Linked DNA regions of Homo sapiens. The protein of the gene in region 3 purifies or fractionates together with the protein of the main gene of each other region. This does not show direct contact. Each region holds a gene or a part of one and is shown on either strand. Other genes may lie near its edges. The genes, in order: FEZ1, ECD, EXOG, MAGEA10 and ZER1.

Region 1 (3,898 bases), on a different chromosome or scaffold from region 3:
CATGGACTTGAAGCTGATTATTTCGGAAGAAAAATTCTCAAGCTCGGAGAGGGAGGGGTCCTCGAGATGGTGGGGAGATGAACCATAGAAACACTGGGGCTTCTCCTCCGGGTCCTCCGAGCAGGAGGGTCGAAGGTCCTCAAACTCTTCATCCAGACTCACCAGTGGGGCCTCCATTCTTGCTCAGCAGGAGAACAACAGCGACTTTCAGGATGAGTTTATCTAAAAGAAATGAACAGCGTAATGTGAGTTTAGACCAGGCTAATCTAAATAATAGAGTTAACTTTAGAGACACACCTGCTTCCAATTCCCTACTCCAAAAAACAAGGCACTGGTTAAGTACGAAGCTCCTGGACAAGATCGTCTAGGTTTGCATTCTGTTCTGTCCTACCAGCTGTGACCTTGGGCAAGTGATTAATTGCTCTGTGCTTCTTATTCTTCTCAAGACAGATATAATACTGAACCCACCTCAAAGGGCTGTTAGAAGACTAAAGGAGTAAACACAGGTGAGTGCTTAAAACAGTACCTGGAAGATAATAAGTGCCAATATTATTGAATACTTTCTGTTGGTGTTTTAGTATTATTATTTTTATTACTATTACTATTACCACAGATCCATATCCTTAACTATGTGATCTGAAAGCTGAAAATTCTCCATGACTTGTTTGGCAGCAAAATGTGACATGATCTAAACTCATCTGGCAACTAAACATGACCAACATGAATATAAAGCTGTTCATGGCTTTAATTTATCCCATTTTGTGTGTTTTGCTGCAGAAATATTAACTTTTTAATTACAAAGATTGCTATCCCAGATCCCACTGGATGAAATGCGGAATGTACACTCTATTACTACTTTCCAAAATCTGAAATAATCTGAATTCCAAATGCCTGGCCCCAGGGGTTTTGGATAAGGGTTTGTATACCTAGATATTACTACCCTTATCAATAAATAGTAGAAACTAATAAAACATTGGCTGGATGTGGTGGCTCATGCTTGTAATCCCAGCACTTTGGGAGGTTGAGGTGGGAGGATCATTTGAGCTCACTCAGGAGTTCAAGACCAGCCTGGGCAACATAGTAAGGTCCCATCTCTATTTTTATTTTTTTAAAAAAACTAATAAAACATCAATAGAGACCTTCCAATAAATGCCTGAGTTGTTTTTGTTTCGTTTCGCTTTTGAGACATAGCTTCACTCTGTGGCCCAGGCTGGAGTGCAGTGGTGTGATCTCAGCTCACTGCAACCTACACCTCTGGGTTCCACCAATCCTCATGCCTTGGCCTCCCAAGTAGCTGCGTGTGCCACCACACCCAGCTAATTTTTGTATTATTAGTAGAGATGGGGTTTCACCATGTTGGCCAGGCTGGTCTCGAACTCCTGACCTCAGGTGATCTACCTGCCTCAGCCTCCCAAAGTTCTGGGATTACAGGCATGAGCCACCGTGCCCAGACAAGCACCCAAGGTTTTCCCACACATAGAGCATATGCCTAGGAGCAGAGGAATAGACTAAATGATCTATTATCCTGTATCCTGTAAGAAACAGACCCAACTACCCATGTGCTCCAAAGCCATACTCCATAACCATCTTGGGCACTGCACCCTGGAACGCTGCACACACAGAACTCCCTTCAGTTCCCACCAACTGTGGGACCTCTACCCCTCATCGGGCCATCTTCATGCACTGCTTCCAACTGTGATTTATCCATCTGTGTGTACATCTGGGCCCCATTCAATTTTAACTTAAATTCCTCGAGGACACAGAAATCCTCTGGATATCTTCCCTGGCTCCAAATATACACTGCCTACCCTGTGGCTAGGCAGTCAATCAATATGTGCTCGTTGAAAAAATGATCTATCTCCCACATACAGTTTTCCATTTTCAGTTTCAGGCAGCACAAGCATTGCTGACTATCATACCCTTCTCTACACGCTCAACAGAAAGGCTACCAAGCTTTTCTCTTCGGTCTATAGGGTTATTGATATAGTTAGGTGCTCAAATTGGAGGCGCTTCCTGAGGGGAACCAGACAGCAAAATTCATGGATTTTGCCCTAGGAGTGCCCATTCTCCATCTCTACCTACAAAACTAAAACTCTAAATAAGCAAGGCAAAGGACATGCCAGGCAAGAACACTGCCAGTTTGTACCGGGATTTTGCTGGGATTAAGTTGATTACCGTTGCTTTAAAACATATTTGGAGCATTTACAGTTTGCAAAGGCAACATGATAGGACCTTTGAATACAAAAATATATACAAGTAGTACCATATCTTGGAAAGAAGACAGGCTCGAGAGCCAACAGATCTGCCAATGGCTGGCTGAGTGACAAGCATCATTGGTCCTGATTTCCTCATTTGTTATAAGGAAGGTGTTGGTACAGAGTTAACATCTTTAGGAGTTATTTTTAATAAATCAATAATTTAATTAATCATTTTGATTGAAGTAATATGTTTATTTAATCCAATATATCCAAAGTGTTACCATTTCAAAATGTAATCCACAAAAAAACTAATGAGGCAGTTTTTATTCTTTTTTTATACTAAGCCCTTTGAAATCCAGTGTATATTTTCCATTTACAGTACATCTCACTTTGGACTAGCCACATTGCAAGTGCTCAACAGTCAAATGTGGCCTGTGGCTACCGCAAGGGACAACACAGCTCTAAAGCAAACACAAGTAATTGCCAGTCAGGGGTTCTTCATCTTCAGTACATAGACCCCTGCAGGCTCTTTGAAGGTAACTATATTTCAATGAAATTGGTTTCCTTTACAAGACTAAGTATTTTATTTTATGCATTTAAAAACATTATTTGGAGAAGGAGCCCACAGGCTTCTCCATACCACCAAAGGAGGTCATAGTGCAAAAAAGATTAAGAATCCCTGAGCAACAAAAAAGTGAGATTAGAAAAGATGGCAGAATGCAGTAGAGAGTAAAACAGTTTTCACAGCCCAGGGATTTGTGTTGATTAAGGCAGTACTCTGTGATGGCTAAGAGCATAGGCTTTGGGTTCCTGTCCTGGTCCTGTCACTCCTAGTTGGGAGACTTTGGGCAAGTTATCAACCTCACTGTGCCTCAATTTCATCATCTATAAAATGGAGTTTAAAACAGTGCTTCCCTTGAAGATTACTTTTTGGACTAAATGAGATCATCTTTGAAGTGTTAAGTACAATGTGCAGAATATAGAAAGCATCCAATAAATATCAATCATTCTAGAAAAATCAAAGCTGGGCACGGTGGCTCACACCTGTAATCCCAGCAACTGGAGAGGCTGAGGCAGGAGGATTGGTTGAGCCCATGAGTTTGAGGCTATAGTGAGCTATGATCACACTACTGTATGCCAGCCTGGGTGACAAAGTGAGACCCTATCTTTAAAAAAAAAAAAAAAAAAGTTAAAAATAATTCTAGGAAAACCAGGATAGCTAACTTACATAGAAATGTGATGTGGGGGCTGGGCACAGTGGCTCATGCCTGTAATCCCAGCACTTTGGGAGGCTGAGGTGCGTGGATCACCTGAGGTCAGGAGTTCAAGACCAGCCTGGCCAACATGGCAAAACCCTGTCTCTACTAAAAATACAAAAAAAAAAAATTAGCTGAGCATGGTGGCAGGTGCCTGTAATCCCAGCTACTTGGGAGGCTGAGGCAGGAGAATCGCTTGAGCCCAAGAGGCAGAGGTTGCAGTGAGCCGAGATCATGCCATTGCACTCCAGCCTGGGCAACAAGAGCGAAACTCCATCTCAAGAAAGAAAGAAAGAAAGAAAGAGAGAAAAGAAAGAAAGAAAGAAAGAAAGAAAGAAAGAAAGAAAGAAAGAAAGAAAGAAAGAAAGAAGGAAAGAAGGAAAGAAGGAAAGAAGGAAAGAAGGAAAGAAGGAAAGAAGGAAAGAAGGAAAGAAGGAAAGAAAG
Region 2 (6,621 bases), on a different chromosome or scaffold from region 3:
GAAAAACTCAGCTGGGAGTGGTCGCTCATGCCTGTAATCCCAGCACTTTGGGAGGCTGAGGTGGGTGGATCACTTGAGGTCAGGAGCTCCAGAGACTAGCCTGGCCAACATGGTGAAACCCTGTCTCTACTAAATATACAAAAATTAGCCAGGCACGGTGGTGCGCACCTGTAGTCCCAGCTACTTGGGAGGCTGAGGCAGGAGAATTGCTTAAACCCAGGAGGCAGAGGGTGCAGTGAGCCAAGATCGTGCCACTGTACTCCAGCCTGGGTGACAGAGGGAGACTTCCATCTCAAATAAAATAATAATAATAATAATAAAATAAAACAAAATAATAATAAAAAAAAGGAAAATCTCAAGCTTCATCCCAGGCCTACTTAATCAGAATCTATGTTGTAACATGATCTTTTGGTTTATATTCGCATTAAAATTTAAGAAATACTGCTTTAGATAAATCTAATGTATGGTTTCTACTAGATTTTGACAATTCTGGAAGTGACTATAGTTTTAAAAGTGGTTTAGATGATCAAAGCAAGGAGAATTAACATTAATTAAAGGCCTATTGTAGGTTTTACTGCTGTCTAATTTGGTTCTCATGTTAATTTTATGATATGAGGATTACTGGTTTATAGATACATTCACAGTGGACAGCTGAGCTAGACTTCAAACCCTAACCCATAAGACTCCAGGGTTCTTGCTCTTTCCATAATACCTCTGTTTAGGATTAGACAGTGGTGGCATTAAAAACTAGGATGAAAACATAAACGGAAGGTGAATCCTAAATTTGGCTCTAAATTAGGGAAAAATACAAAATAAACTGTTAAAACTGGAAAGTTATTTGAATGTTTAAGATCCTGTTTATTTACTTATGTTATTTTGTTTTAATCCACTGTGGCCCAAGGCATAGTCTCAAAAGGTCTTGAGAACATGTGCCCTCTCTTTTTTAAAATCCATTTAAGCTGTAGTTTTTTTAAACTACTTTTGAAAAAAAATGTATTTAAGAAGTAGTAGTGTACAATCGCATTCTAATTTGAGCATATTATATGACTTTTTATTTTAAATCCTGATAGATAACGTAGAATAAGTAATATAATGAAGCTTATGTTTTGGAAAATTAAGTCTATGATCCTTTATCCTACCAGAGTTAGGAAAACAATTAACATTCTTATTTATTTCAAATCTCACACACCAAAAAAAGAAAAACTATGATAAAATATGGTTTTAGCTATCTGACATACTAGACTCAGAAAGAGAAAGAGGTTAAAAACACACATACCACTTGGTTCCTAGTGGTGAAACTTTTGCTGATGCAGGTGTGTGCTAGTTCCTGGTCCATCTGGGCCATGTATGACTTGAGATTATCAAGTGTTCCTTTCAGGGAAGCCTCTTCGCCAGGTTCGTGTGTTTCAAAGTCCAAGTCATCATCACTATCTAAACATTCAAAGTCTTCATCATCCAGATCATCAGAATCTGACTCATTAGGCCTTGGCCCTACACAGATCCCAAGAAAGAAAGAGCCACTTAGTAATTATTATTATTATTATTATTATTATTATTATTTAGTTACTACACATCTCAAAATAATTAGAATGTTACCCACAGAAAAAGACTAATACACACAGTCAGTCTACTTCACAAAAATCCCTTCTACAAATGGTAATGCTGGCAGATATGTGTGCATTTAATGTTGTGGAAAAGCGTACAAGCTGAATCAAAAGATTTAGCTTAAAAAAAAGTGAATTCAATTAATTAAAATATTTTTCTTAAAAAATTTTTAAAAATACCTAATAAATGAATACATTTTGATGTAAACATTCAAGCCATACAAGTATTGTCTCCAATCTCACTCTCTCCCCAGAGGTAAGCATCTTTTAGCAGTTTCCGGGTATCCCAATCTTTCTCTCTGCAGTTCTGTACATATATACATATTATAATTATTTTTTGAGTTATCTTTTTATTACTGATTTGTAAGTACAGTAATTCCAAAAAAGAACAATATAATATGGGAGCCAAGGTAAAACCCTATTTAAACACACAGCATTCAGTCACTCTCAAATATTTAATGAGGCCGGGCACGGTGGCTCACGCCTGTAATCCCAGCACTTTGGTAGGCTGAGATGGGCGGATCATGAGGTCAGGAGATCGAGACCATCCTGGCTAACACGGTGAAACCCCGTCTCTACTAAAAATACAAAAAAATTAGCTGGGTGTGGTGGCAGGCGCCTGTAGTCCCAGTTACTCAGGAGGCTGAGGCAGAAGAATGGCATGAACCCAGGAGGCGGAGCTTGCAGTGAGCCGAGATCGTGCCACTGCACTCCAGCCTGGGCAACAGAGCGAGACACTGTCTCAAAAAAAAAAAAAAAAAATTAATGAGCAGCTACTATATATGTCAAACACTAAGCTAGGCAGCCTCTACAAAATTATTCATGGGTAGTAATTCATGGTTGAAAGCAACTCAAACCAGGAAGAGAAAGCAAACATTTTGGCTTCTGAGATATCTCATAAACCAATGCTCTAGCAACAGCCATACTACTAACAGTTTCAAAATGAAAGTCAACATCACACCACTACTTACCTAAAATCTTATCAAAATAATTAAGAAAAGAATCTGCATCAAAAGTGATTGGAGCCTCAGAAGGTTCTCTGCAATATTAAAGGACAAAGACAATTAATTTATTCTAAATACAACTCTTTGAAACTTTTCTAAAGTGGTGCCATTCTTAGGAAAGCTACCAAAGATAGAATTTCTAAGGAGGCACAGCAAGAAAAGTTGTAGTTTAAGTTTTAAAAATCCTTGAGTTTACTGGCCTTGCAGGACAACAGAAATGGGAAAGTCTGATAAATGAAAAGTAAAAATTGCATCTTGTTTATGTACATTTAGCTTATGCTGATTTAGGGACCTACCCACTCTCTAGCCCCAATAAGATATCTAGCATTAGCAAAACCATTATTTATTTGAGTTAATTTAAATAAAGCCTGTTCTTTTAAGAACTAAAGCTTAAAAAATAAACAAGAACATATCTTCCCTTATCCCTGCTTTCTTAAAGAGAGAATACCAAATATAAATTTATATCTTTCATCAGGTTCAAGAGCATCAACACTAATAATGATATATTTGATACACAAGTAACAGTTTTTTTTGTTTTGTTTTTTTTTTGAGACGGAGTCTTGCTCTGTCACCCAGGCTGCGGTGCAGTGGCACGATCCCAGCTCACTGCAACCTCTGCCTTCCGGGGTCAAGCGATTCTCCTGCCTCAGCCTTTCAAGTAGCTGGGATTATAGGCGTGCGCCACCATACCCGGCTAATTTTTGTATTTTTAGTAGAGATAGGGTTTCACCATGCTGGCCAGGCTGGTTTTGAACTCCTGACTTCGTGATCTGCCTGCCTCGGTCTCCCAAAGTACTGGGATTACAGGCATGAGCCACCGCGCCCAGCCTACAAGTAATAATTCTATCTACCTGTTTTTCCTGTTATTTGCCAAATGTAGTTTCATATTTCTGTTATTATTTCTGCCTCTGATGAATTCCTTTTTCAGTATCCAATCTGCTTGCAGGGTGGGAGATCAGAGGTCTGAACTTGTTGAAAGTTAAATGTTGAGCCCATAAAGCTACTAAAGAGTAAAGTATATGGTTTCCCTGTGTGGTTCTGGATGATGGTTTTTAGGGTGATCTTTCTGGCTTATTTCAAGGATTGCAAAGGATGAGGCTTCTAGAAATCTGACTTCAAATAAGTAAGTTATCACTATACTAGGCACAAAAAAGAAAGCAAGCAGTACAACTCATTTACTCAAAAAAAAAAAAAAAAAGTGGAAATGGCAATGACTATGACTTCAACATTTGGGTTCTAGCTATTTATATATTTATACTTTAACACAAATTACCGAGGCAGCTCTGCTCCCTTGTGGGTTGAGACTTTGGATATGAAAGCTTTCATGCTCTCTGAGACTTCAGTTAAGTCATAGTTCTGCTCCTTCTCCTCCTTGGAAACAGACTCGGATTCTTTTTTGCCAACAGCTTCCTGCAGCAGCTGGTCCAGCTGATCTGGTGAGAGATCTAACCACTGGTCATCTGAAAAAGAAGAAAGCATAATACTGCCATTCTACATTCACATAAGTCCTCTTAGGAGAGGATCCTGTGAGACTGAGTAGAACATTTTAATTTTTTTTTTTTAACCCTTCCACTGTATCCTGGTCCATCACTTACCATCCTCTGGGGGAAGATTAGCTGCTTCTTTCTTAAGGTCTTCTATATCAAATGGTATTGTCTGTAATAAGGTTAAGATTTCTTCACCAGGGCTCATAGCAAGAGAACTATGAAAAATAAAAAACATGAGTATTTCTTCATAAGAGAACATAGAATAGTAATCATAAATACATAGTATTTTAAGGTTGGAAGGGATTAGCTAGTCTAATTTGGGGAGTGTTTTTTTTTTTTTTTTTTAAGAGATGGGGTTTCATTGTTGCCCAGAATGGACTCGAACTCCTGGGTTCAAATGATCCTCCCACTTCATCCTCCCAAGTAGCCAGCACTACAAGTACATGCCAAAACACCTGGCTCTAATTTGTTTGTTTGTTTTTAACAGAGTTTCACTCTGTCGCCCAGGCTGGTGTGCAGTGGCGCGACCTCGGCTCACCACAACCTCCGCCTCCCAGGTTGAAGAGATTCTCCTGCCTCAACCTCCCAAGTAGCTGAGACTACAGGCATGCGCCACCACACCCAGCTAATTTTTGTATTTTTAGTAAAGATGGGGTTTCACCATATTGGCCAGGTTGGTCTCGAACTCCTGACCTCATAATCCCCCTGCCTTGGCCTCCCAAAGTGCTGGGATTACAGACATGAGCCACCGCACCCAGCCTTCTAATTTGTTTTTAAGCATATTTTTAGGTTGCAGATCCCTTTTTCTCAAACAAAACTTTTACCAGGAACTCTAAAATACAGAAGGGGTCAAAGAAAAATGGCCTTCATTAAAGTGGAGGATAGGCCAGGCACAGTGGCTCATGCCTGTAATCCCAGCACTTTGGGAGGCCAAGGCGGGGAGATCACTTGAGGTCAGGAGTTCACTTGGCCAACATGGTGAAACCCCGTCTCTACTAAAAATACAAAAATTAGCTGGGCATTGTGGCACGTGCCTGTAATCCCAGCTACTCGGGAGGCTGAGGCAGGAGAATTGCTTGAACCCGGGAGGTGGAGGTTGCAGTGAGCTGCCCCAGCATGGGCGACTGAGCAAGACTCCATCTCAATAAATAAATAAAATAAAATAAAATAAAAATAAATAAATTGGAGGATAGAAGCTCAGAGATCTACACAATTGGCCTTCCTTTTTGGCTCTGAAGCAGGCTCCATGGAACATCATTATGAAGCCACTGATCTCGTATAATTCTTTCTATACATACATGCAGAGACAGGGTCTCTCTCTATATATGTATATATATGTACATACAGTTGTATTATGTTAATAGTACATATACATATAAAACACGTACTAAAAATACATAAAAATATACATATAATATATATTTTATATACGAGGAAAAGAAGATCCAGAAGGAAAGCATCAATTAAAATTTATCTAGCATGTATTAAATGCTATGCTAACACTTTAAATACATTTTCTTATTGAGTCCTTTTGTTACTATTATAGAAGGTAATAATCCTGTTTTACAGATGAGAAAACCAGAACCCAGGGAAGTTCTTTAACTTTTGCAAAGTCTGTATTACCCAGGAGGCGGAGGTTGCAGTGAGCCAGGATTGTGCCATTGCACTCCAGGCTGGGCGACAAGAGCGAGACTCCGTTGGCCGGGTGCGGTGGCTCACGCCTGTAATCCCAGCACTTTGGGAGGCCAAGGCGGGCGGATCACGAGGTCAGGAGATCGAGACCATCCTGGCTAACACAGTGAAACCCCGTCTCTACTAAAAAAAAAAAAAAAAAAAAAAATTAGCTGGGCGTGGTGGTGGGTACCTGTTGTCCCAGGTACTCAGGAGGCTGAGGCAGATGAATGGCGTGAACCCAGGAGGTGGAGCTTGCAGTAAGCCAGGATCGCGCCACTGCACCTCCAACCTGGGCACAGAGCAAGACTCCGTCTCAAAAAAAAAAGAGACTCCATAAAAAGAAAAAAAATCCTCATTCTTTAAGACTTAACTCAAATACCTCCTCCCTGAAGCCTTCCATTATCTTTCTTTTTTTAACATCTCTGCTTCAACCTTAGTGAAAGTTTATTACCTTCTCACTATGACTCTCTTTAGCATTTGATATTCCAGAATGATTTTTATTTTGCCTTTTGTTATGATTATTTGGTTTATTCTCTCTCCTAGTAACGTTTACATATTAATAATACAGAGTAGAGACAGTTCCCCATCACCTACGTGATTTTGCAAGGTATGCAAATGTTTATCCAATTAAAGCAAGTCCTTTATACAACTTGATTTGATCCATTCTTAATAGTTCAGACAGGGTGCCATCAATTTATGTAACAAATCATGTCACCATTATGTCACTCACTCAACACATAAGTATCTCTGTGCATAGTTTCTTTTTTTTCTTTTTCTAAGACAGGGTCTCACTCTGTCGCCTAGGCTAGAGTGCGTGGCATGATCACAGCTCACTGCAGCCTTGACTCTTGG
Region 3 (6,621 bases):
TTAAGGACCCAAGCTAGGAGTATAATAAGGAGAAACAGAAGGACAGATATATAGATGACTTAAAACTAAAAAAGCTTACTGGGATTGCAAACAGTCAGTTCTCAACTCATCATTCCCTCCTTTAAATGATTTCTTCACTTAGCTTCTGGAACATCACTCTCCCCTAGATTTCTCCTACCTTAAAGGCTGCTCCTCTGACTCTTTCGCTGGATCTTCTTCTTCCTGACCGCTAATGTCCAAGTGCTCCAGGGTTCAGAATTCAATTGATTGTTCTCTCCTGTCTATATTCACTTATATAATCTCATCATAGCTTTCAACATCATCAGTGTGCTGACCACTTCCAAGCACATCTTAAATCATACCACTTCTCACCATTTCTACCACCACCATCCTATTCAAGTTATTATTTCTCATGTAGACAATTCCATTAGTCTCTTAACTGGCCTTCCAGGTTCCACACTTTCTTCTGTTCTTCACAAGAAGCCAGTGTGTGCTTTAAAAATGTAAACCAGATTATGCTACTAACCTGATCAAAACACTGTTTAAGTGTCCCATCTCACTTAATACAATCCACATTTCCTGCCATTGCCTCCCTCTATAATTTACCTTCTTCTCCTCCTCATGCTTACGCTGCTCTAGTCACACTGAGCAGAGCACTGCTCCTTGAATGTGCCAACCTCAGTTTCACCCGTGTCTTGCACTCGCTCTAGCCGAAAAACTGTTCATATGGCTTGCTCCCTCACTTCACTTAGGCTTCTGCCCTATCTCACTTCCCCTTGTCTTTCTTTCCCACCCTAATACAATCCTCTACCGTGCTTTATATTTCTACGAGGCATTTTACTTACTAGGTATCTCCTCCACTATAATGCATGCTCCATGAGGGTACTCTTTTCTGCCTTGTTTAATGCTGTATCAGAAGCACCCAGAACAGCACCAGGTACCTAGTAAAAGCTTAGTTAAGTCTCTGTTGAATAAAAGGAAGGAAAGAAGAAAGGGAATGAAGGAGAAAGGGAAGGAGGGAGGAAACAAGTAATCCAAATTAAAACAGAAAGTCAGAGGGCTCCAAGAATATATTTTCACGAAAAAACTAATTTACCTTTTTAAAAAATCATATGATAATATGCTTAAATGACCTAAATTATCTGAATTAGAAAGTATTTTTAAAAAGAGCAATTATAATACACTGCCACCCTTACCTTCCACTTCTGTTTTTCCGTTGTTTGTGGTAATATTTCTCTCTCAAGTGGCACAGATTTAATGATATAGAATTATATCTATTTCCTTATAGGTCCAAACATACTACATACACACTTATAATAATATAAATGCTGGTTAAATATTTTCTAATAGATCTTGGATTACAAACTCAAAGACCAACAAGGGCTAGACAGGAAATGTAAGTGAGTAAAATGGGGCAGGTAAAGACTACAGTGATTTGAAGATGTGTGTTCAATCTAAGGAGAAGGTTGATACTCTTGTCTAGTAAACTGGCTGCCTATGGGAGTATATGCCAATTGTTACGGAGTCATCTGATTTAAGAGAAGCTAAAATCTGGATTTATGTGAAATCTCCCAATTATTAAACATTATAAACTAATTAAAAAATAACATACAGTCAGGTGTGGTGGCTCACGCCTTTAATTCCAGCCCTTTGAGGGGTGGAGGTGGGAGGACTACTTGAGGCCAGGAATTTAAGGCCAGCTGGGGCAACATAGTGAGACCCCCACCTCTACAAAAAAGAAACTTAAAAATTAGCTGGGCATGGTGGTGCATGCCTGTAGTCGTAGCTACTTGGTAGGCTGAAGTGGGAAGATCTCGAAAGCCCAGAAGATAAAGGTTACAGTGAGCTACGATCTTGTCACTGCACTCCAGCCTAGCAGACAGAGCAAGACCCTATCTCTATGAAAAACTTAAAAATATATATATATATACCATGTGAGCCAAATAAAATACCTCTATGGGCTGGACTTGCCATAAGAGGCCTCAGTTTACAAACTCTGCTACAGGCAAAACTCAGACTACATTATCGTTAGCAAACATAAATGTAAATGCTACAAACCTTGACAAGTATAAATGGTAGATCAAGATTAGAGGTTCAAGTATATTATGTAAAGTATATGATGCAAAGTTTACCAACGGAAGAACTAAAATTAAGTATATATGACTAGCAGAGTATAGTGCAGTGCAAGAAATAAACAATAAATTTCATAATTTTATAGAGATAAAGTAACTGTTAATAAGCGACAGGTCACAAGTTAAAAATATATTTTAGTGCTCATTATTCTGAGATATAGAAATAAGTGCCAAAACAAATAAAAACTGGACAGTGGGATAAGGAGTATAAGTGAGACTTTACCTTTTCATGCTGCTTTGTACTGTTTGAATTTCATTACAATGTCATATATTTCCACAATCATGTTTTAAGATTTAGCATTTTTATCATTATGCACATATAATTGCATAATTTAAAAATTTTTCAAGTTTAATTTCAAGGAAAGATAGTTTGCCAGTTATGACTTTAATGCCATGAGCGAAAAAAAAGCATCAAGACTAAACCGTGTTTAATGTAAGTATCTAATTTCACAACTCCTAACATAACATGAACTCATGAACTCAAAAGCATCGACTTAGAAGACTACAAAAATTGTGCTTTAAAATTAATAAAGAGGCACCTGACTTTTGGGCTTCTGTAGATAAGAAAGGAGAAGTAAAAAAGAATCTTAGAAATCATAGGTTTATGAGTACATGCACCAAAGAATACAAAAAACACTGGTCTTCATTCTTATGTTAGCCTCCAAAGGAGTAATAGTAGCTAATATTTACTGAACATTTCCTATGTGCTAACTACCAAGCTAACGATGATACTAGCAACTCGGTGAGGTAAACACTACTACTATCCAAATATCACAGATAAAACTGAACTTTAAAGAAGTTAGGTCATTTTCCCAGGACCACATGCAAGTAAGTATCAAAGCAAAGATCCAAGGCCAGATCTGACATGAAATATGTGCTTTTAACAACTATAACCACCCTGCCTTTCCTACTATTGCAAGATAAAGGGATAAGCTCCAAGTTAAACACCAGAAATTTCTCCTGTGGTCTACTACCGGTAGGTCTGAACTTCCTTACTAATTCTAGTACCCTGTCCCATGCTTTGATAAGAGGAGACATGTCAAATTAACATCCTTTATAATTTGGTCCAAATTTCACTTTATCTTGCAGATATTATTTGAAAAATTCCTTGATACAGGACTGTGAACATTCCCTAATTTCAGTATAAATGAAGTTTCCTTTTCTGTTCTTTTAATGTTATTCCTTTTTTTATGGTTCCGAGGATTAGGAAAGTAACAACGTATACTTTCTCTGTCATGGTTTCTGTACTCCAGATAGACTGGTAGCCAACGCAATTGGAGGCAGAGAAACCCATTAGAGGCCTCTGCAATACTGCAGGTGTTCAGAGCTTCGGTATGTCTAAGTAAAAGTTATTTTAAAAAAAGAGAATTAATAAAAGTTGTTGGTTCAAAGTAATTAAGAGTGAGAGATGACTGCCAGGATGTGAAATACAGGAGAGGAAGAAAGTAATCAAGAATATAAGTTTGGAGCATGCCATTTACAATTCTGTATACCTTCCTCCCACATGACAGGTACTTGAAAATTTGCTGAACGGATGACTTACTGAATTAAAGATTTGCCAGTGTGAACATGCATAGGTCCTATAAATTAATAAGAGACATGGAAAACTAATGATATGACCTTAGAAGCCCAGAATCTGAAAGAGAATACCTAAGACCAGCAAGTCTTTAAAATAAAAACAAGAAACAAGACTATTACTCAAAGTATACTCTTCAGGAAGCTGATCTTGACTGACCTCACATGACTGATCATTATGACACTAACTAGGGTGAGGAGAGCTGATAGGTCTCTTTTGAAACTCTTTAAGGCTAGCTTGAACATGTTTGAGTATCATTTCACTGATAAACTATTTTAATATATCTTTTAATATTTTATTTAAATATCTATATAATATTTAATATATAATTTTAAAATTCTGAATTAATTAAAAGCTTAGCATTTGTAAGAACAGCACAAAGAACTCCTTCCTTTATATCCTTCACTCAGATTTACCAATTGTTAACATTTTGTTCTATTTGCTTTATCACTCTCTTCTCTTTTCCCTAAACTTTTTAAAAGTCACAGGCACACCATTTTACTCCTAAACACTTCAGGATATGACTTCCTAAGAGCAAAGATATTTACTTACATATCACAGAACAATTTTAAAAATCAGGAAATTTAATACTGAAAATACACAATTATCTAATTTGTATATTAGATAACAGACCTCGAATGTTGCCAATTCTCCCAATAACATCCTTTTTAGCAACTTTTTTCTGGTCTAGGATCTAATCTAAGATCATACTACACATTTTGTTTGCATGACTCTTTAATCTATTAATCTGGAACAGATAGTTTCTCAGCCTTTGTCTTTTATGACACTAACACTTTTGTAAAGTAGAAGTCAGCTGTTTCACAGAATGTCTCTCAATTGGGGTATGCCTGATATTTTATCCTGCTCAGTGCATCACACCAGGAGTACAGCGTTTCACTAAGTCCCATTACTAGCAATACTAAACTTGATCACTTGGGTAATGGGATGTTTCTTCACTGTAAAGTTATTTCTTACTTTGTGATTAATAAATAATGTATGAGGAGATACTTTTAGATTATGTAAATACCCTATTCCTCATAAAACATTCACTCACTAGTTTTAGCTAGTGATGACTCTTGCCTGAATCAATTATGGTGATGTGTGCAAAATGATTTGTATAACTCTTTCATTCTCGCAAATTTATTAACTGACATTCTATGGTATGCAGAAGCTTTTCTTTACACCCTATGTATTTACATATTTATTGAGTATGTATTCTTATTTAATTCAATAGGTTTATAATCCATTTTATTTTGATATTCAATAGCACCAGATACAGTAAGTGGGAGCTCCTTCAAGCTGATTCACATGTCCTTCTGACATATCCCCACCATTTGTCTGAGCACTTCCTTGGCTTTCTGATATATGATGTTCCATTTTGTACTCTCCCTGTACCACCCCTTAAATCAGTCATTTCTCTAAGCGCTGAGTCTTTTCAGGAGATGCTTTTTAGAAACAAATATCTGGGTCTCAAGATGTGTTCATTGCTAATGACATACCAATTCTTCTGGGCCTTTTCAGCAGAAACAACTAGAAGATATATTTTTATCAGTTCTATTTTTAAAAATTATATCCAACTTAAGAAAAACAATACATTTTCCACTACGGCATTTGGGCAACACATATTTTACAGAAATAGCCACACAAAAATCTATGTAGTGAAATGCTTGTAATTATTGGTTAATTTTTCGTTTTAAACATTGTACAAATTTTTGTTCTACTACACAGTAGGCTAGTGATATAAATTTTTCAATTTTATAAAAACAAAGCACAAATAAAACTGTAATTTAACCATTTAAGATATACAAGTCAAAGCTAGAAGAGCCTCTTTTCTGACATAAAATAAACAGGATTTAACAAAGACCAAGAATAATTAATATTTGAAAAATAATACAGGGGGCTTTAAGCCTTTTTTTCTCCTAAGACTATAAAATATACTAAAATTAAATTAGCAAGTTAATCAGAGGAGAGAAATTAATATGGGAGGAGAGATATTAAATGAATTAATTTTAAAATACTAATTCCTTTGACTTCCTTCACTCCCATATCTACTGGAATTTTCCAAGGATGTACAAATCCTTGAAAACAACTACTCTATCATTTCCACTTAACAAAAAGAAGTAGTTGGGTCATAATTTTGTGTGGAAAAAGAGAAAGTGGGCTATTCATATGGACCTATACAAATCCTTGGATGCTTGGACATTACTGCACATCTGATCTAGACAGGCTGATAATAAGCAAGTCAAATGGACAGAATATACTCTAAAAGTTTTGGTTTTTTTTTGGGGGGGGGGTGGTTCCTCAATCTGTTCCTCAGGTTATTAAATTTTATCACAGACTTAAGTAATCATTTACCTAACCAGCATTTATTAAATATCTACTTTATTTCCAGAGCTGAGCTAGGTGTTCCCTCCCCTCCTCTTTGGCCTTATTAGCAAGTCCTTCAGTGCTTCTTTTTACTCACTCTACCACCTCTTCTGCTTCACTCCACCTGTTCCCTGCCCTCTGTAAGCCTCACAGTATAGTATAACATTTCAGCCACCCTCTTGGAAGAATCCTCAGGATATTTCTGCATGATAAGATTAAATGTTAAACTTTTTCTAAGAACACCTGCTCTTCAGGTATACCACTTTGTAAATTGCCAATATGAAAGGCTAGCTAAGAATTTCCCAGCAACATTAGATGTCTGAAGCTCTCACACCACTAATTACACTCTCCTATCTTTAATCTCTCTTTCAGTCTATAAAAGTGCTCACATATCTTGCATATTAAAAAAAAGAAGCTTCTAGAAGAAAAGCTTTTCTTCCCATTTATTCAACTCACTGTAACACTGTAATCTGGTTGTTTTTATTTTATTTTTATTTTTATTTTTTTCGAGGTGGAGTCTTGCTCTGTCGCCCAGGCTGGAGTGCA
Region 4 (5,889 bases), on a different chromosome or scaffold from region 3:
TGCAGGGAGCCAGCCATACTCTTCCTGACAGAGGGAGGGGAATCTTGAATGAGCATAAGGTGTCCAACATGCCGCTGATGCATTCAGCCAACAGGCCTGCCCATTCAGATCACACAGCCACATCCTGTTGATGATGATAGTGTCCAGATTTCTCAAGCCTATCCCTGTTTGTTGCCGTGTCCTCCTTCACCACTTCCCACTTCTCTCCCTCAGGTCTCTGCCCCCACCGGGCTGAAATCTGGATTCAGAGCTCTCAGTGGCAGCCTGCCTGGGGCTCTGTGGACTTGATTTCACATGTGGTCTCTCTCGTGGACTCTGGTAATTGCTCTTCCCTGCATCCTCCTAATGCCCCTTGCCAGCCGAGGGTGTCCTGTCTGCTCTCCTTCCCCGGCTCCTGACTAAATCCTTTGAAAGCAGAGGAGAAGTTGAAAGGCCCTTTCAACATAAATTTCTACATAAATTTGACTTTGGGCACTGATATTTAGACATCTGCTATAAGAGAGATTTCCAGGAATGGGACAGAACACTCAGAGTACTTCTGCAGAGTGTAGGCATGCTCTGTGTCACAGGGTGAGCAGGCGATTCTAGGCTTCTCTACTGTGTTCTGGGCACAGCCTTTAGCAGAGACCACAGTGACAAGCTAGGCAGCAATCCAAGTTCCAGATTTGGGTAGGAGGGAACACTGGGGACAACCAGGGGAAGGGTGCTGTAATGTGGGGAAGTGCTGGCTCTGAACAGAAATGCCAGCTCCTGGGTACAGTCAGCTCTCAAGGAACCCTGGGGATTGACACAGTAGGTCCCTGGATTAATAAGGTCCACAGGCCACCCTGAAATGGTGTTTGATTCTCATTGTCACCTTCTCTAGGCCTACGACTGCTACCTTGGCCTCAGAGTCCCTATTTTTGTCACCTGAGAGACATGGTACAGTGCTGAGAAGAGAAATGAAGTACTATTCAAGAGGTCGGCCTCAGGCTGGGAGGAGTGGGAACAGCATGGGCTCTACAGGAATTCAGACCCACCAGGAGTCTGGTTCCAGCCCTATTCCTTACTAGCCATGTGATTCTGGGAAATGCCCAAGTCCTGTGAGCCTTGGGTTCTTTATCTGTGAAGCAGGTGTGATAAGCCCTGTCCATTAGGACTACTGGAGTGTGTGCAATATAAGTGAAGAACCTGGCTCAGGGCCTGGCATAGTTAGAAGTTTAATGAATGGCAGATGGCTGTTATTTCTAATATTATTTGACCTCAGACCCCACCACAGTCTTCTCTGGAATTTTTGTCATTGTTATCCAGTACATCTCAGAATATGCAGCTCAGTGGAACATGGAATCCCAAATCAGTCACAAATGTTGCTTCACATATAAAACTCAGTAAATTTTCCCTCTTAGAGGATATATTTTCAACATTTCATGTGCAGGAGTTTCTCCCTGCTGGATGCTGCTCAAAGTTCATGGAATTTGAGTCAAGTATCAACTCCTTCCCTCTCTCCAAGGTTCTTTTCCATCCAAATCATGATTTTCATTCATTTCATCACCACTCAAAATCTAGCCCTTGCTTAGTGTTGTTCAAATTACACTAAAAATAACCCAATTAAAATGTTTCTCTAATGGAGTCAGCTAACTTCTAGGCATCAATTCATAGGCTTATTTATTATGAGATCCTTATCTCTCAGGAGACCCTTGCATATGATGGGTATCTATCACCTAGTTATTTTTTTAATTTAATTAGGAGTTCAACTGCACTGAGACAAGAGTGCAGAACACCTTCCATTCCTGCCCCAGGTGGACTCCTCTCTGTTCATCCACCACCCAAAAGGAACTGCTCAGAGCAGTTTTACATCCCAGGATTTGCTCTGTCAACTATGTGAGGCTCTGACCCTGGCACCACCCAGCTTCTTTGGATTCATCTTCACCAGAAGGAACTGCAGTTTCTCAAAGCCCCAAAAGTCCTGGCTCAGAGGATGTACGTGACCACTCTCACCTACAGCCCAATACCCTCACCCCGTCTTACTTTTCTTCTGGGTCTTAGAGGACATCTTGCCACCTTGTTACTTGACTGCAGCCCCTAGACTCTACCACCCTATGGGTAAAGGTGGTTCTGGCTTAACATTTCCACTACAGACCCAGGGCCTTCCACAGACCAGATGCTCAGTGGATGTTTGGGGAAAAAATGCACTAGTGAGCAAAGGTTTCATTTATTACAGTTTAATTTCGACTTAACAAGATCCAGGGATATAACTTTTAATTTTGCAGGATGATAAACTAAAAATAATAAAGAAATAAAAATACTAACACTTAAAATTATTTTCTCTATTTTACTATTTTTTTCATATTTCCAAGAAAATTACTATTCCAATTCCATGTTATTTTATTACAGATTACAAATATGATGGAAGGGTTCCCAATTTGTTTTACAAAATAGCAAAACTGTTTCTTAAACTGGATAAACAGAAACGAACGTGTGACCTTAGATTCTGAAGCTCATAAACATTCTAGTAAAAGTAACAACATTTTAAAATACCAAGAAGAGGCTGGGTGCAGTGGCTCACACCTGTTATCCCAGCACTTTGGGAGGCTGAGGCGGGCAGATTACCTGAGGTCAGGAGTTTGAGACCAGCCTGGCCAACATGGTGAAACCCCATCTCTACTAAAAAATACAAAATTAGCCGGGTATGGTGGTGCACACTTGTAATCCCAGCTACTCAGGAGACTGAGGCAGGAGAATCGCTTGAACCCAGGAGGCGGAAGTTGCAGTGAGCCGAGACTGCACCACTGCACTCCTGCCAGAGCAATAGAGTGAGACTTTGTTAAAAAAAAAAAAAGAAGAAGAAGAAAAAGAAAATAAAATACCAAGAAGAAAAGAAAAGAAGTCCCCAGGTTATCCAAAGAAAACAGTAAGACAAAGATGTTATGCACTGTATTTTCCTCAGCCTCAGCCTGGCCCTCCACCACATACATCATTGATTTCCATTCTCATTTGTTTTCATAAATTAAAAAAAAACAAAAACATAAACAAAAACTGACATGTAATTGTAGATATTTATGAGGTACAATTTGATGTTCTGATTCATGTATATGTAGTATAATGATCAAATCAGGTAGTGTATCCATCACCTCATGCATTTATCATTTCTTTTTGGTGACAATATTGAAAAGCCTTCCTTCTAGCTGTTTTGTAATATACAATATCTTAATGTTAACTATAGTCATCCTACTGTGCAATAGAACACTAGAACTTATTCCTCCTATTTAATTGTAATGTAACTACTGCTCTACTCTCTACTTCCATGATACCAACTTTTTTTTTTTTTTTTTTTAGATTCCACATATGAGTAAAATCATGTGGTATTTGACTTGCCTTTTAAAACACAGTGAAGAATCTGTCTTACTTTATTCAGGGTAGGAGAAGCTACCTGTAGCGCTAGAACTTGCACTGGCCATGGCAGTAGTATCATCTGTGGTGGCAATTCTGTCCTGGGCTCTCTCTTCCTCATCTTTCAAAGCCTCCTCATACCACAGTGGGAAGGATCTTGGATCACTCCCATTTACCTTGGCCAAAAATTTCAGGAGACTCATCTTCCTAATTTCAGCATGAGCCCTTGGACCCCACAGAAACTCATACCGTGCAGGATCACTGCCAGGCACCTGCCGGTACTCCAGGTAGTTTTCCTGCACCCAATCTTGGGTGAGCAGCTTCCTGGGCTCCCCATAAATGAGGTGCTCCATCCCATCATACAGCCCCATCATATTCAGTGCTTCCCAGATGACCTCCTCAGGGGTGCAGTAGCCCTCTATGAAGACTATGCTTAGGATAAGTATGAGAATGCCAGTCTTGGGCATGCTCTGGACATCACTCAGCATCCCATCATAGGTGAGGCCCAGGGAGGTGACAAGGACAAAGGAGTGGCCAGTGGGATCCACTTCCTTTACATCAATGCCAAAGACCAGCAGCATGCACTCGGAGGCTTCACTAAACAACAAAGGGAAGTGGTCTTCATAATTTCTTATGACACTCTCCAGTATTTCTGCCTTTGTGATCGGCTCCTTCATTTGATACTTGAAGAGCAGAAACTGCACCAAATCAGTCACCTTTTCATCTATCTCACTTCTGGGTAAAGACTCACTGTCTGGCAGGACCTGTAGGGTGCTTGGACTCTCCTCCTTTTGGCTGCTGGAGCCCTCATCAGATTGATCTAATGGAAGGGAAGCAACGACCGAGGGGGAGGAGCAGGCTATCTGAGCACTCTGGGGAGGATTTGGTGTCTCATCATCAGCAGAAACCTCCTCTGGGGTGCTTGGTATTAGAGGATAGCAGGAGGAGGAGGAGGAAGAGGAGGAGGAGGGAAAAGAGGATGGAAAAGAGGAGCTGGTGGAAGTGGATGATGAAGCATCCTCCTCCACAGCCAGGGGAGCCTGTGCACCCTCGAGGCCCTGTGTCTCACTTTGGGATTGAAGATCTTCTTCAGGCATGCAGCGCTGACGCTTTGGAGCTCGAGGCATGATGACTCTGATCAGGGTAGCAGGTGGGAGTGTGGGCAGGACTTGGGCGATGGGGACCCACAGGCCTGGGGAGAGAGGGAGGGTGTAAGTGGCCACAGCTGAGAACCACACCCTGGAGGTTCTAACAAAGGCCAACTTACAGGTCTTCTCCTTCAGTGCTGCTCTGTGGTGTCCCACAGCTCTTGACCTCTTGCTCTCCCTGTCCCCTGAGAACCTGAAGAAGGAAGTGAGAGATGGCTCCTCAGGATGCAGCCGGCAGAGGCCAAGGCTCCAGGACTGACAGTAGGGTAGGTGGAGCTGATGCAGTGGGGTCCACTTTGTCCTGGAGCAGGTGGGGCCCTTGGTACACATTCAGGGCATGCACCTCACCTTGACTCCTGGCACTGTCTGGGCCCTTTCTGCTCTGTGACCTGAAAACACTGCCTTAGACCAAGGCCTCACCTCACAGTCCCTGGAGCTCCTGAAAGAGGAATTGAGGGGCCCTCAGGGTTCAGGCTGCAAGCACAGCCCCAGCCTCCCAGTGTTGTCAGGAGGGTGGGCTGGACTCTGTGAGTTCCCCACTACCCTGGGGTGGGGAGCCTCTGTGCTCACGTGGGGCTCTCACCTTTCTCCTGGAAAAGCCTAGACCCTGCTCCTTTGCTGGTCTAAGAAACTCTCAGATCAAAAGCTTACATCCCTGATACGAAATAGAAGACATGAGGGGACCCACATCTGGCCACAACTGCAGAGGTCCTCCCAGAAAAGACAGCAAGAGGTGGCCATATTCAGCTGGGTCCATGTGTACTGGGGTGAGGAGCCTGCTTGGTCCTCTTCTTGATGCCTGATACGACCTGGGACCCTCCCTTTGTTGATCTGAGGCCACTTCCTTAAACCAAGGTCCTACCTCCAGGAGACATGGAAAGAGGAAGTGAGGGGAGTCCATCTACCCCCAGTTCCCCATGAATTCCCGTGGCTGACAGAAGGGGTAGGGTGGGGCTGAGTCCTGTGCGTTTGGAGAATGGTGTCCCCTCAGTCCTCACCTTGACTCCTGGCAGGGTCTGGGACCCTCCCTCTGCTGACCCGAGTGCAGCTCCCTTAGACCAACACCTCTCCCTCCCAGAGACCAGTGATCCTTGTATAAGACAGGGAGACTCAGCGGACAGCCCTGACTGGGTTCTCCAGAGTGACAGTAGGGTCATGGCAGATTTCTGTGGGGACCCCATCTGTGTTATGGGCTGGGGGTACCCTCAGATTTCCCTCAGGTTCCTTACCTGGACTCTTGTCAGATCCTGCGACCCACTGTGTCTGTAGAAAAGAGGGGTTCCCTGTGTTGACTTGAGTCACCCTCTGAGAGCAAGGTTCTCACCTCCCTGAGATTCCAAAACAAAAGTAAGAAGGAGCCACATCCTGTCAT
Region 5 (6,621 bases), on a different chromosome or scaffold from region 3:
TTTTAGTAGAGACAGGGTTTCACCACGTTGGCCAGGCTGGTCTCGAACTCCTGACTTCAGGTGATCCGCCTGCCTCAGCCTCCCAAAGTGCTGGGATTACAGGTGTGAGCCACCGTGGCCAGCTAATTTTTGTATTTTTTAGTAGAGATGGGGTTTCGCCATGTTGGCCAGGCTGGTCTCAAACTCCTGACCTCATGATCTGCCTGCCTCAGCCTCCCAAAGTGCTGGGATTACAGGCGTGAGCCACCACGCCCAGCCTGAGACCCTGTCTTAATTAAAATATATATATATATATTGTGGCTGAGCACGGTGGCTCACGCCTGTAATCCCAGCACTTTGGGAGGCCGAGGCAGGTGGATCACCTGAGCTCAGGAGTTCGAGACCAGCCTGGCCAACATGGCGAAACCCTGTCTCTACTAAAAATACAAATATTAGCCTGGCATGGTGGCACGTGCCTGTAGTCCCAGCCACTAGGGGGGCTGAGGCAGGAGGATCACTTGAACTCAGGAGGCAGAGATTGCAGTGAGCCAAGATTGTGCACTGCACTCCAGCCTGGGCGACAGAGTAAGACTCCATCTCGAAAAAATAAATAAATAAAAATTATTGTTTGATCCTTTCGTAGTTTATAAGAGTGATGATTAGGTCTTCATGCTCATGTGTGAAATGTGCCTCCCTCAAACCATGTTAGGACGTTGGCATATTGCCCATCTGAAATGAAAAAAAGTTTTTGTTATATAAATATGTTGGCTGGGTGTGGTGGCACATGCTTGTAATCCCAGCACTTTGGGAGGCTGAGGCAGGTGGATCACCTGAGGTCAGGAGTTCAACACCAGACTGACCAACATGGCAAAACCCCGTCTCTACTAAAAATACATAAATTAGGCAGGTGTGGTGGCATGCACCTGTAGTCCCAGCTACTTGGGAGGCTGAGGCAGGAGAATCACTTGAACCCGCCACTGCTCTCCAGCTTGGGCAACAGAGCAAGACTCCATCTGAAAAAAAAATTTGTTGGCTGGCCAGGCGCAGTGGCTCACATCTGTAATCCCAGCACTTTGGGAGGCTGAGGCAGGTGGATCACCTGAGGTCAGGAGTTCGAGACCAGCCTGACCAATATGGTAAAATCCCATCTTTACTAAAAATACAAAATTAGCCGGGCATGGTGGCGCATGCCTGTAATCCCAGCTACTCGGGAGGCTGAGACAGGAGAATCACTTGAACCCGGGAGGTGGAAGTTGCAGTGACCCGAGATTGTGCCATTGCACTCCAGCCTGGGCAATAAGAGTGAAACTCCATCTCAAAAAAGAAAAAAATTGTTGGCGGATAAGGGAGATGTTCATATTCATGTGACAACACAGTTGAAGTAAAAATCCACCATATACAAACAGTATGCAGTTTGTGTATCCCATTTACAAAATATGTGTGCATAGGCTAAAATTCACAATTGATATCCCATGTTAATGGTGCCTGTCTCTGGGTAGTGGGTTTATGGGTGATTTTTATTTTCTGTATATCTGTAATTATAACTTTTCTATAATAAAGGCTTTTATTACTTTTATATTAAAAGCAGCTGTTGGTAAGAAATCCCCCAGCAGAGTGTATGGGCAGAAGGGCTGAGGAGACGGCACAGGCAGGGAGAAGGGCAGGGTCCCTGGGCCCCCACCCCCACATGGGGCAGGGAGGAGGATGGAGGGCAGCCAGGAGTGATGGACTGTGGGAAGGGCCAGGTCCCAAGAGTCAGGGAGTGCTGCTGTGGGAAAGGGAGCTGGGACAGATGCAGCCCAGAGCCGGGGGAGCCCTAGCGGGACGCAAGAAGCAGGAAAGGGGTGGCTGGGCCAGAGCATGCGGGGCCGTGGCGGGTGGGGGCTCACCGTCACCTCCTGGTAGGATTCCATGCCATTCAGCACCACCTGGATAACCTGCCGGCGCAGCTTCACACTCTGCTCTGAGCGGTACTCGGAATTTGTTAGGTAGAAGAGAGCGGCGCTGCCTGTCACTTGAATGTTCCTGTCATATTTGTGGCACTTGAGGGCCGTGATGACCAGCTGTATGAAGACAAGGGGGACCTGGGCTGGCAAGTGCAGGGAGAGGCCTGGGCTCTGCAAGGGGCTGGAACAGGCTCTCTGGGGCAAGGTTTAGCCTGGTCTTGCTCTCTAAAGGCAGAAGTGGGGCCTGGGGAGCAGACACCAGGGTGGGGACCAAACAAGGCCAGTGCTGAAGCAAGTCAAGTGCTGTGAGGCCCAGGCTGGGGTTCGGGTCCTGGGGCCCTGGGGACAGGGTGCAGAAGGACACAGGCTCTGGGGACACGGCTCAGCCAAGCCCGGCAACCTCCAGGTGGGGAGGGACAGGAGGCCAAGGCCCCAGGCTTGGAGCTGACCTTCAGGGCCCGCAGCAGCTGGTTGCAACGCTCGATGCGGGCGATGTCAAAAAGCAAGTTGATGGCCCGCGAGGTGATCTCAGGCCGGTGCTCCGTGTAGGCCTCGATGGCATTCAGCACCTGCTCTTCGTTTTTGTCACCACTTACCTGCGGGTGGGACACGCTCAGAACAACCCAGCAGAGGCCAAGGGCTGGGATGCCAGATCCCAGCTCAGTCTCCAGCCCCAGAATCCAGCTCCTTCTCTCTCCCAAGGCTCCCTGGCCCAGACCCATCCCACTTCCACTGCTCACTTTGTAGGCTGGAATGTGCGTGAGGCGGCACAGAGAGTTCTCAAAGAGCCCGAGGAACTGCAGCGGCCTCTTCAGAGCCCGGAAAGGTATGATGCTGCTCTTGGAAGGCTCAATGCTGGGGAAAGAGGGTGCCGGTGTCAGTGGCTTGGGACCCAGGCCTGAGCTGGGCCTCCCCACTGGGGGTGGTGAGGCATTTCCTTGCTTTCTCTTCTAGGCCCTCCAACCTCATCCCCTACTCCTTTTGTTTTTAATGGTAGGGGACATAAGCACCACCTCCTGATGGAAGCATGGCAAAGCCACATAGTAGGGGAACACATAGGATGGGCAATGCAGCCACCTTTAGAAACCACCTGCCATTCTAGTAAGGACATGGCACCTTTAGGTCTCACCAACAATCACAAAGGGACAAGCTCAACTGAACACCATTAAAGCAGGCTGGGGCCAGGGCTTATGGGTGGCCAGTTACAGCTGGTAGGGTTTGGTCAAACTTCTCAACCAACCAATCCAAGAACCGACCTATGTCCAGCAATACTCCATAGGTGGCAGACACTGCCAGCCTTGCCTCTTCCCCCCATGGCACTGTGCTCTGGTCAGGCTGAGTGTTGGGTAGTTCCCCTGTCGCTCCTCATGCTCTCACCTACTGGCCTTTGCAGGTGCTGTTCCCTCTGCTAGAACACGCTTCCTCTGGCAGAGGCAGAATGAGCTTTCAGGACAGCCAGGATGCGTCCCTCCTCCTCCTTCCTTCCTGATCCTCAGGCCACACCGGGGCCCTGGATTGCCCCTACCATAGCCCTTGTAATGACTTGATTGTCCCCACCAGCTCACACAGCCTCCAAGAGGGCAGGACCTGATTTGTTTCTTTATCTCTAGCACCCAGCACAGCACTTGGCAGAGGGGTACTTGGCAAATACTTTCTTTTTTTTTTTTTTTGAGACAAAGTCCCACTTTGTTGCCTAGGCTGGAGTGCAGTGGCGCGATCTCAGCTCACTGCAGGCTCCGCCTCCCGGCTTCAATTCTCATACCTTAGCCTCCCAAGTAGCTGGGACTACAGGTGTCTGCCACCATGTCCAGCTAAATTTTGTATTTTTAGTAGAAATGGGGTTTCACCATGTTGGCCAGGCTGGTCTCTAACTCCTGGCCTCAAGTGATCCGCCCATCTTGGCTTCCCAAAGTGCTGGGATTACAGGCGTGAGCCACTGCGCCAGCCTAAATGCCTGTTGAATGACACCCTACCAGTAGCCATGGAGGCTGGGGCCCCACCTGGTCTGCCCCGCTTCCTCTTCCATCTTGGAGATGCTGCAGTTCTCTAGGATCATGTGGCCAGAGATGTCCAGGGACATTAGGTTCCCCAGCTTCTGCACAAAGAGGCTCAGCACCTCCCGAGTCAGCTTGAACTTGTAGTAGCTGGAGAGGCGGTCTCGGGAGATGTCCAGGTGTCTGAAGATTGGGGTAGGGGGTGCAGGTTAGGAGCTGGGTACAGGGTGGGGCTGCCTTGCAGATCCCAGCTCCTTTAGTCTGTAGCAGGGGAGGGCCCATTCCTGCCACAACTTCCCCAGGGCATTCTGGGAAGAAACCCCAAACAGCCCCAATCCAGCTGAAACACTGGGTTTAAGGAATGGGACTGTGTCTTCATCCCCACCCTCTGCCTAGCCAAGCGCTCCTGAACCCTGAGGGCGTGACAACACCCACCTCTACTCCTCCCCACCTGCCCCCCAAACCCCACCCTGGTGAGCTCTGGGCCAGGAGCTCACCGCAGCTTGTGCAGCTGCACGATGACCCGGATGTGGTCGTCGGACAGGTCCATGTTGTAGAGGACGAGGGACACCAGGCTGTCTTTCCACTGGGTGAGGAAGGCGGCGTCGCTCGTCTGAATGCCTGAGAGGTCCAAGGCAGCCAGGGAGTTAAGCGGCCGCAGCAGGGACTCCACAGGGACCCAATCAATCATGCGGCCCAAGTTGAGGAAGCGGAGGCGGCTGAAGCCCTCGAAGGTGAAATCCTTAACCAGCACCTGGCAGGTGGGGTTGACGAGGTACTCATCTTCACAGCCCCCTGGGTTCTCCTCCTCATAGAAAATGTTTGTACAGCCGAAGAGGCTCAAGGACACCAGGGTGTGGCTGAAGCTCCTCAGTGTCTGCAGGCTCTTGGCGGACAGCTTCTCGCAGTTAGTCAGGTACAGCTCCACCAGGTCCTGGGAGTGGGCACAGCTCCATCATCATCACCACCCTTGCCCCTTCCCCCGGCCCCAGGCCTTGCCCTGGGCTACAGGTGGGTTGGAAAGGGGGATGTGCACAGTCACGGTGCACACTGGCTGGGCTGGGGATGGCTGGGCTGGAGGCGAGCAGCCTGGCCCCTGCTTGGTGTGGGCCCTCCTGGCGCTGTGGCGGGGCAGGTCTCACCTGCTTGCGGATGGCCTCCAGGTCCTGGTCCTGCACCAGGTCCTCACGGAGGTGGATCCGCGTGAGGCGGGTGCTGCGGGGGTCCGAAAAGAGGCTGAAGAAGCTCTCGTGTGGCTCGAAGTTACAGGCAGCGTTCACCAGCTCCACATACCTGGGAGAGAAAAAAGCCTGGCTCAGGAGAGGGCCACAGGGACTCTCATCCTCGCTTCAAAGCCAAGCCCTCCTCCCCCTGAAGCTTTCTTGGATCACCCCAAGTAGCAACCTCCTTCTCCTAAGAGTATCTGGTCAGATCCTGACTAAACTACCAGTAAGATTAAGGGTGCCCAGGAACCAGGAATCTAAAGGCAGCTCTCTGGGAGACCTTCTAGGTGATGCAGGCGCCATCTCTCCCAGTGCACATGCCTGTCACACAGCCTCCACGCACGCACACTGCAGGGGCAGCAGCCCCACTGGCATGGCCACTCTCGTCACCTTCTTTAAGCCCCTCCTGCGACCCTTTTAAACAGGCAAACTAAGCCAAGTAGTTCAGAGTTCCCAGCTGGGTACAGGACAAGCCCTTAATGAAGCCCTGTTGAGACATCAGCTCATGCAAGAATCCTGGTCTGCTGGGAAATGCTTTGGATTCAAACGCTTTAGACTCTAAATCTTGGCTTGGCTGCTTCCTACCTGGGCAACTTCACACAAGTAAATGAACTTTCCCAGACCTCAGTTTCTTCATCTGTAAAGTGGATATAACTATGGCCTGCAAAGTGTCCAACCTAAAGCCTGACCCACGGTAAATGCTCAGGACGTTATTACAGGTCCACCTCTGTCCTCAGGCCCACACAGGCTTCTAGTTTCCTATGCAGCTGTCTAATAATTTCCCTTCTGGGAATCTTTTTCTTTTTTTTTTTTTGGTAGAGACAAGGTCTCGCTATGTCACCCAGGCTGATCTTGAATTTCTGGTCTCAAGTGATCCTCCTGTCTTGGCTTCCCAAAATGCTGGAATTACACGTGTGAGCCACCATGCCTGGCCACCATCTGGGCCTGTAGATTGAACTCCCAGCATTCAGTGACTGCATAGCATGCTTCTAGGAGCCCCTAGGAGTGGGGAGGCCCTCGGAGGGCCATTCAGATTTTCTGGATGATTCACTCCCTGATCATGGATCCGTTATTCTGGCACCGGCATGTACATGCATATGTGGCCATGCTCACTGAATTCACAAGCACAGGTATGTGCATGTGAATGTACATACACGTGTGGGGCAACACTTAATTCCTTCATTTATATGCAGATTTTGACACAATCACATCTCTAAATGCACACATGCAGTTTCACAGTCAGAAATAACCTGTGCTGCATAAGCTTACATGTGTACACACACCCATGCCTTCACGTGCACACCCCTCCACACACACACCAACACACACACATATACACCTTTACGGTTATGGATACACCACTATTCTCTTGCAGCCATGAACATCCATGTGCACACACACACACCCTCACACATTCATCTCCATAGCTACTCCCCACATAGTGCACACACGGTCCCAATCTCTCTATACACATTCATG

What was found.
Region 1: the proteins of EXOG (region 3) and FEZ1 purify together in Homo sapiens (co-immunoprecipitation; one large-scale study listed by IntAct). This does not show direct contact.
Region 2: the proteins of EXOG (region 3) and ECD purify together in Homo sapiens (co-immunoprecipitation; one large-scale study listed by IntAct). This does not show direct contact.
Region 4: the proteins of EXOG (region 3) and MAGEA10 purify together in Homo sapiens (co-immunoprecipitation; one large-scale study listed by IntAct). This does not show direct contact.
Region 5: the proteins of EXOG (region 3) and ZER1 purify together in Homo sapiens (affinity purification with mass spectrometry; one large-scale study listed by BioGRID and IntAct). This does not show direct contact.

What each region holds. Positions count from the first base shown.
Region 1 is NC_000011.10:125,489,601-125,493,498, forward strand, and holds part of FEZ1 (fasciculation and elongation protein zeta-1), read right to left. Parts: intron 223-3,898; 5' UTR 178-222; coding exon 1-177. UniProt on the Homo sapiens protein: May be involved in axonal outgrowth as component of the network of molecules that regulate cellular morphology and axon guidance machinery.
Region 2 is NC_000010.11:73,135,428-73,142,048, forward strand, and holds part of ECD (protein ecdysoneless homolog), read right to left. Parts: intron 6,059-6,621; coding exon of another isoform or gene 5,960-6,058; intron 4,311-5,959; coding exon 4,204-4,310; intron 4,069-4,203; coding exon 3,882-4,068; intron 2,644-3,881; coding exon 2,576-2,643; intron 1,492-2,575; coding exon 1,277-1,491; intron 1-1,276. UniProt on the Homo sapiens protein: Regulator of p53/TP53 stability and function. Inhibits MDM2-mediated degradation of p53/TP53 possibly by cooperating in part with TXNIP. May be involved transcriptional regulation. In vitro has intrinsic transactivation activity enhanced by EP300.
Region 3 is NC_000003.12:38,508,093-38,514,713, reverse strand, and holds part of EXOG (nuclease EXOG, mitochondrial isoform 1 precursor), read right to left. Parts: intron 965-6,621; exon of another isoform or gene 846-964; intron 1-845. UniProt on the Homo sapiens protein: Endo/exonuclease with nicking activity towards supercoiled DNA, a preference for single-stranded DNA and 5'-3' exonuclease activity.
Region 4 is NC_000023.11:152,131,125-152,137,013, forward strand, and holds the end of MAGEA10 (melanoma-associated antigen 10), read right to left. Parts: intron 5,846-5,889; 5' UTR 5,747-5,845; intron 4,957-5,746; exon of another isoform or gene 4,866-4,956; intron 4,711-4,865; 5' UTR 4,637-4,710; intron 4,562-4,636; 5' UTR 4,497-4,561; coding exon 3,387-4,496; 3' UTR 2,186-3,386; downstream 1-2,185. UniProt on the Homo sapiens protein: Not known, though may play a role in embryonal development and tumor transformation or aspects of tumor progression.
Region 5 is NC_000009.12:128,748,748-128,755,368, forward strand, and holds part of ZER1 (protein zer-1 homolog), read right to left. Parts: intron 5,213-6,621; coding exon 5,062-5,212; intron 4,854-5,061; coding exon 4,417-4,853; intron 4,103-4,416; coding exon 3,926-4,102; intron 2,781-3,925; coding exon 2,666-2,780; intron 2,522-2,665; coding exon 2,375-2,521; intron 2,043-2,374; coding exon 1,869-2,042; intron 715-1,868; exon of another isoform or gene 611-714; intron 1-610. UniProt on the Homo sapiens protein: Serves as substrate adapter subunit in the E3 ubiquitin ligase complex ZYG11B-CUL2-Elongin BC. Acts to target substrates bearing N-terminal degrons for proteasomal degradation with the first four residues of substrates being the key recognition elements.